2 linked regions of the Homo sapiens genome follow. The protein of the gene in region 2 interacts with the protein of the main gene of each other region in a pairwise test. Each region holds a gene or a part of one and is shown on either strand. Other genes may lie near its edges.

What was found.
Region 1: the proteins of TMEM267 (region 2) and SAR1A interact in binary tests that used the Homo sapiens proteins (3 or more experiments, as listed by UniProt).

Annotation. Positions count from the first base shown.
Region 1 is NC_000010.11:70,149,915-70,153,514, forward strand, and holds part of SAR1A (small COPII coat GTPase SAR1A), read right to left. Parts: intron 2,679-3,600; coding exon 2,562-2,678; 3' UTR 1-2,561. UniProt on the Homo sapiens protein: Small GTPase that cycles between an active GTP-bound and an inactive GDP-bound state and mainly functions in vesicle-mediated endoplasmic reticulum (ER) to Golgi transport.
Region 2 is NC_000005.10:43,456,005-43,460,138, reverse strand, and holds part of TMEM267 (transmembrane protein 267), read left to right. Parts: intron 1-4,134.

The sequences.
Region 1 (3,600 bases), on a different chromosome or scaffold from region 2:
TGTTAATATAGATTTTGCTCAAACATCTGCCATCCCCATCCTGTTGCAGAGATGACCAACAACCCTGGGTCCACAGCATGTTCCAAATCTCTCAAGTAGTACTAAATCTATTACTTCTAGTACCCCAGCCTTTTTCCCCCTCCTGGTGGCAAAATTCAAGTATCTCACACGCACCCTAAATGTCTCTTCCTCTATGCAGGGAACTTTTGGTTGCCTCCCCAAATAAACGGCATTGTTCAAACTCAGAGCTCAGAACAAACCAATGAAAAAAAAAAAAGGAAATAGCGTATTTGTTTTAACTTTTTATTAAAATGCTTAGGATACAGATTGACTTTCTTTCGTAAATGACTGTTTTACTTTTCCTGAAGTAGGACATATATGCACTCTGATAAAACAGAATGAGAAGTCATAATTCATGGGAATTCCTATACAAGGTGCTGATCCTGTGTTTGGAGCTGAGCTCCTCACAGCAGCTTCTTTCAGCTATCTTATAGGAATAGTGTTCCGTGGGGCAAGAAATACATTGGTTCTAACTGATTTTCAATCCCCTTTCTCCAGTGGAATAAACCACTTTCACAAAGAGCTGCCCTATGTATAACCCACAGATTTCTAGCTTGCAACAAAGTGACAAGGGACAAATAGGGGAAAAAAAAAATTAAGAAAACTAACACTGAAGTAATCATACTTCTCATGTCTCCGAACAGAGAAGTATGGGGGACCTTTAACCAAAGGAAATTAAAAATATGCAAGTTATATTACCTAGTTCATTCACTGTTAGCTAGATTTGTTCACTTAAGGCTTTAACCCCTTTCCAAACCAACAACTTTGTCTTAATCCAGCTATGTTTGCTAATAAACGAAATGCATGCACTTCCCACATATATACTTCACTGAGCCTCTGCATTCAGTACCTGGCAGTGAAAAAGTATGCTTTCCCCACAAGTCAGTACTGGAGAATAAGAATGAGAACTCCAACTAAAGAACAATGCCTCCCTCACCCCAGTAATGTTATCCACATTTTCCCTACCCTCACATTAGAATAAAGACATCCTCCCAACTTTTCATCTCCTATCTCCAATCTGTTCATAGGAGATATATCTTTTGATCTTTTATTATAAGGGTAGAATATAGATTAAGATCATCAAAATCCAATTTCACATGTGGCACTAGGAAAATGGAATGCTATAAAATTAATCCCCATCACCCAAGTAGGGATGCCGGTGCTTTTATACTGAGTCTTTACTGCCAATAAGTGATGCTGCCTCCAAAGGAACAGCTCTACAGAAAGTTTTTGGGTTAGTGTTTCCCTAGCTTATTTCTGCAATGGAGAAAGACAATTTCATACCAAAAAAAAAAAAAAAAAAAAAAAAACCTGGAAAAGCTACAGATGTTAACCTTTACTTTAAACACCAATAAAATAGGTGTCAAAGGAGAAAAAATGTAAAAAAAAGAGCTCCCAAACAGCCTGAGAGACCAAATTCTGCAAATGGAAATTTTAAAGCCCACTGAATACATTTTTCATGGATCCAAACAAATGCTACAATACTTTTAAGTCCTCAACTCACAGAATTAAGAGCCCTTAAGCTGTTAACTTTGTCCTGTCTTCCTATTCAGAAAAATGTCCCCCTAGAATCTGTGCAAAAGTAACTGATGCACCTGCAGTATGTGACACGAGAGATGTTCTCAACTCTTTTATGAGGTCAAAGTCACTTTTGATAACTGAAAACGAAAAAGGAAGGTGCTATAGAGAGAAATTAAATTTCACAAAAGTATAAAAGCAAAGACTGGCTAAAATCTGTAACTTCATGAGTAAGAATAACAACAATAACCCATTCTATAATTAACTCCTCCACAGTGAACAATCTGCTACACATTCCTTGATGAGGAATGAACCTAGCTTACCACAGTGGAAACCTGCCACAACTGCAAGGCCGGGGTTCTGCCCCTTTTCTAGTTCTCTGTGCACAAGGTTATGCCACCTACTCCAAGGCAGTCAGAGAGACAGGTGAGCTCAGGGGAGCTTCTCTCACCAACCTGCTAACTCAGCAGGAGTAAGTTTACCCAAATGAGCTCTGGCCTCCATATCTGTTCATAATTTTATGAAGTATCTAAATGTCATTCATTAGTTTAAAAAAAAAAAAGAATAGAAAACTCTGGACCAAGTAAATTGTGAACTCAAAAAGTTAGGAGGGATACCAATTACATTAACAACGCTTTCTTTAAAAAATAGAATCACTTTCTTTTGAATCAACCACAGTGGTGAGACGTGTTTTTCTTTTCAGGTGCCCCATGATGGCATACAGCTTTACCCGGCAAATCCTGCCAGCTTCCAAGTCCCAGGATACTGACCTGCACCAGCACGTGGGGCAGCATTACCTCCCAACAGTGTGGAGAAGAGCACATGTCACCACTGGGCAATGAGAGAGTTGACAGAGACTCTTGGCTTCTCAACGCCAGACATGGTTGGAGAGCTTTCCTTGTTCTATTAGAAAAGTTCATGAGGAAGCTGTGAATAGGATCAGTCCAGAGAAGTAAAACTCTTTTATTTTCACCGTCCAAACATCAGTCAATATACTGGGAGAGCCAGCGGAAACCCTCGCCGTAACCTTGCCTCTTGAGCACACTGCACATGAACACTTCCATGGGGCGAGCATTCAGCTCCTTCAGGGTCACATTCCCCTAAAGGAGGCAAAACCAAGAAAGGCCTGTTAGCATCTCTGTGGTGGAAAAGATTGAAAGGACGATCATTACAATCATTTTATCCATTCCTTAAAAGCAAACCTAAGTAGGTATTAATTACAGAAATGTGGTCAAGGCCATATAGATGACTTCCCCAGGCTTCGTGTTTTCAGGATAGAATAAGCAGCACAGTTCTATTCCCAGCCTTTCTCTCTCTGAAGAGCATTTGCTTTGAACACCCAATATTTATCTGTAAAGTTATGGCAGCAAACCAAGAAAAAAGCCACTGGGACTTATGGAACCAGCATGCCCTCTGATGCAGAAAAGAGGTCTGGGACTGTTTAAAAATAAGGACATTCTCATTAACAAAAGCATGCAGAAATAAACACTCATAACAGGTGGCACTGAAGAAATGAAGAATTCATGTGTATTTAATACTGATGCAAAAGAGGAGAAATTAAATGAAAGAAAGGAAGTATTTCTATAAAGAAACCGATAATCAAGAAGAGGTGAGACTAAGGAACCATGTAAAAAAGTCAGAAAGTTATCACAGAAAAGGAAGATATTTAAAAACTAAATATGCCAAAACCCCAAGCTAAAAAGAACAGTAAGATTCCTGCTTAACTTTATCTGATCTAGATTTTCTCTCTCTCAAGCCTGCTTTTCTACAAGAGTCCTCCTTCCAATTGAAGACAGTAAAAACTATTGATTTGGAAGACTCAAGTTCTTTTTCTGGTTTTATCACTGACTTGCTGTGTAGACCTGAACAAATCACTCTCTGTTTCTTCCTCTGCAAAATGCGGCCAACAGTCCTACCTCTCTCAGCAAGAAGCAATGAGGATAATCAAGTGCTTTGATTTCAATGCTTGGAAAGTGATTGAAATGATTATTTTTCTTCATAACCTGCAAACTCCAGTCCAAA
Region 2 (4,134 bases):
AGCGTTAGCTTCTCATTGGAGAGTGAACCTATTGTGAACTGCACATGCGAGTTCTAGGTCACGTGCTTCTTATGAGAATCTAATGCCTGATGATCTGTCACTGTCTCCCACCATCCTAAGATGGAACTCTCTAGATGCAGGAAAACAAGCTAAGGGCTCCCACTGATTCTACATTATGTTGAGTTGTGTAATTATTTAATTATATATTACAATGTAATAATAATAGAAATAAAGTACACAATAAATGTAATGCACTTGAATCATCGCAAAACCATCCCCCTCCACAGTCCATGGAAAAATTGTCTTCCACAAAACCAGTCCCTGGTGCCAAAAAGGACTGGGACCACTGCTTCATAGCATATGAAGTTGTATACCTGAGTATGAAATAAAATTTATAAATTATATTATTCAGATTATGCCTTTTATTGACCACTTAATTTTTTGCTGCTGTTGTTTGACATGTAAGCATCCTCTTACCCCATAGAACTTTACTGTGATGTGAATATTTTATCCTTTTCAGTTCTAATTAATCATTTTTACCTTGAATTCTGTGTTTGCAGTTAATATTACCATTGCTACTTAATTTTGTTTGTATTTCTTAGACATATATTTTCTCATCTCTTTATTTTCTATATTGTGAAGACTTTTTGTTTGAGGTGTTTTGTTTTGAACAATAATTTAGTGATGTTTTCTTTTGCCCCAATCTGATTATGTTTGTCTCTTTATAGAGAAATTTAACACATTCACATTTGTTGTGGTATTTGTATTTTATTTGGTCCCTATTGCTTTTTGCAGAGTGGGGGTGAGCTGGAGGGAAGTAAGGTTTTCTTTTTTTTCTTTTCTGTCTTGCTGTATTGATCAAATTTTCTTTATTTGTCTCCCTTCCTGCTAGAGATTGAGAAGTTCTACTGCTCAGTTTCCCCTACCCCCCAAAATCATACATGGGTGTATAATTTCTAAGGCAAAACTTTTAAAATTCACAGTTGCCACATAGGTGCCATAATTTAACTATGCTTAGAATGCTACAGTCTATGATCTTTTTCTCTCAGAGTTCTGTAAATGTTACCTCACAGTATTCTGACATTTAGGGTTGATGATAATCACATTCTCTTTCTTTGGAAGATAATTTTTTTTTTTTGACATAGAAACTCTAAAGGTTTTCTCTTTATTTTTGGAAATTTTTTTTCAATGCCCAACTCTTTGTCTTATATTTTCCCCTTAAGCTTTGGAAAAATTATTTGCAAATGTTCTCATTTACTAATTTTGATGTTTGAAAGATTCACGCCACTGTGCATTCCTTCAGTGCATAGTAGACTTTGCATTGAGTTTTTATTTGGGTAATCAACTTTTTCATTTCCATAGTTTCTTGTTTTCATATTTCTCCTTTTTTACAAAAGCCTGCTGTTTTATAATCAATGAAGTGTACCTTCCTAACTTTTTAACATCTTTGTTGGAGTATAATTGACATGTAATTAACTGTATATGTTTAAAATATACAGTTTGATACGTTTTGACATATGTATGAAACTGTGAACCATGGAACTATCACCACAGTCAAGATAATGAACATATGCGTCCCTTACCAAAGTTTCTTTATTCTCCTTTTTAATCATTCCTGCCTCTACTGTCTTCAGGAAACCATGGATCTGCTTTCTGTCACTATAAATTAGTTTGTATTTTGTAGACTTTTAAATAAGTAGAATTATACTATGCACTCTTTTTAAAAACATATTTCTAGGCCAGGTTCAGTGGCTCACGCCTGTAATCCCAGCACTTTGGGAGGCTGAGGTGGGAAGATTGCTTGAGGCCAGGAGCTGCAGACCAGCCTGGGCAACATGGTGAAATTCCATCTCTACAAAAAAATTTAAAAATTAGCCAGGCATGGTGGCCTGTGACTGTGATTCCAGCTACTCAGGAGGCTGAGGCAGGGGGATCTCATGAGCCCAGGACATAGAGGCTGCAGTGAGCCATATTCACACCACTGCACTCCAGCCTGGACAACAGAGCAAGACCCTGTCTCAAAAATTAAGGAAAGAAAGAATTTTTTAAATTAAATAAATAGAAATGGAAACATATAGCCAGGCATGATGGCTCATGCCTGTAGTCCCAGCTACTCAGGAGGTGAGGTGGGAGGATCACCTGAGACTAGGAAGTCAAGGTTGCAGTGAGCCAAGATCAAGCCACTGCACTCCAGTGTGGGCAACACAGTGAGACCCTGTCCTCAAAATAAATAAATTTAATAAAAACATTTCTAAATGAAAATTTCAAACATACAGAAAAATAGAGAAAAATATAATGAACTACAGTACATCTATTACTTAAATTTATAATATTTGTTGGCGGTTCATTTATTTAATTTTTTAAAATAAATTGACTTTATTTTTAAGTTTTTGTAAGTTTTTCTAATTAATAGACTTTATAAACTGATATGGTTTGGATTTGTGTCCTCACCCAAATCTCATGTCAAATTGTAATCCCCAGTGTTGGAGGAGGAGCCTGGTGGGAGGTGACTGGTTCATGGGGGCAGATATCCCCCTAGGTGTTCTCATGATAGTGAGTTCGTTCTCACGAGATCTGGCTGTTTAAAGTGTGTAGCACCTTCCACTTTAGTCTTCTACTCTGGCCATGTAAAACGTGACTCCTTCCTCTTTACCTTCCACCATGATTGTAAGTTTCCTGAGGTTTCCTCAGCCATGCTTCCTGTACAGCCTGCAGAACTGTAAGCCAATTAAGCTTCTTTTCATTGTAAATTACCCAGTTTCAGGTAGTTCCATGCAATAACAGACTAATACATAAACCTAAATAGTAGTTTTAGGTTTACAGAAAAATTGAGCCAATATTATAGAGAATTCTTATAGATGCCCTTTGCCCTGCATACATTTTCCCCATTATTAATATTTGCAATAGTGTGGTATATTTGATACAAGTAGGGAACCAATATTGATATGTTATTTTTGACTAAAGTCCATACTTTATATTAGGGTTCATCCTTTATGTCGCACAGTTCTATGGGTTTTAACTGTGTAATTTTTGTTTGTTTGACTTCTTTCACTTACTATAATCATTTCAAGATTCATTCATGTTTTTATGTGTATCACATGTTTGTTCCTTTTTATTCCACCTTTTGTTTATTCACATGTTTGTGGACATTTGAGTTGTTTCCAACTTGGAACAAATTCAGATAAAGCTGCTATGAACATTCATGTGTAAGCCTTTGTGTACACATAAGCTTTTGGGAAAATACCTAGAAGTGGAATGACTGGGTTATATGGTAAGAGTACGTTTAACTTTCTGAGAAATTGGAAAACTGTTTTTCCAAAATAGTCATACTGTTTTTTATTCCGACCAGCAGCGTATGAGTTCTGGTTGCTCCACATCTTTGTCAACATCTGGGATTGTCAGTCTTTAATTTTAGCCATTTAACAGGTGTGTGATATCTAATTTTTAAAATTTGCATTTCCCTAATAATTAATGGTGATGAACATATTTCTTATACTTATTGGCTATCTGAATATCATCAATGGTAGGTACCCATTTTCACATCTTTTGTCCATTTTTGTATTGGTTTGTTTTCCTATTACTCTGTTTTGAGAGTTCTTTATATATTCTGGATGTAAGTCCTTTATCAGATATAAGATTTAAAAATTGTTTTTTCTTTCTCTTAACATTGTCTTTCAAAGATCAGAAGCTTTTAATTTTGATAAGTTCAACTTACCAATTTTTTAATGGATCAAGCTTTTGGTATTTTATCTAATAACTCTTTGCGTGACCCAAGGACACAAAAATACTTTATGTTTTTTTCCAGAAATTTTATCTTTTTATGTTTTATTTACATTTAGGTTTGTGATTCATTTTGAGATAATTTTTGTATATGGAGTAAGATATAGATTCAGGTTTATGATTTTTGCATATGGATATCCATTTGTTCTCACACCATTTGTTGAAAAGAATATTCTTCCTCCATTGATTTATCTTTGCACCTTTATCAAAAATTAATTGACCAGGCTGGGCATGATGGCTCATGCCTGTAATCTCAGCACTTTGGGAAGCCAAGGATCACTTGAGGCCAGGAGTTCGAGACCAGCTAGGAGTTCGAGGCCTCTCTAGAGACAGGGAGACCTTGTCTCTTTGAAA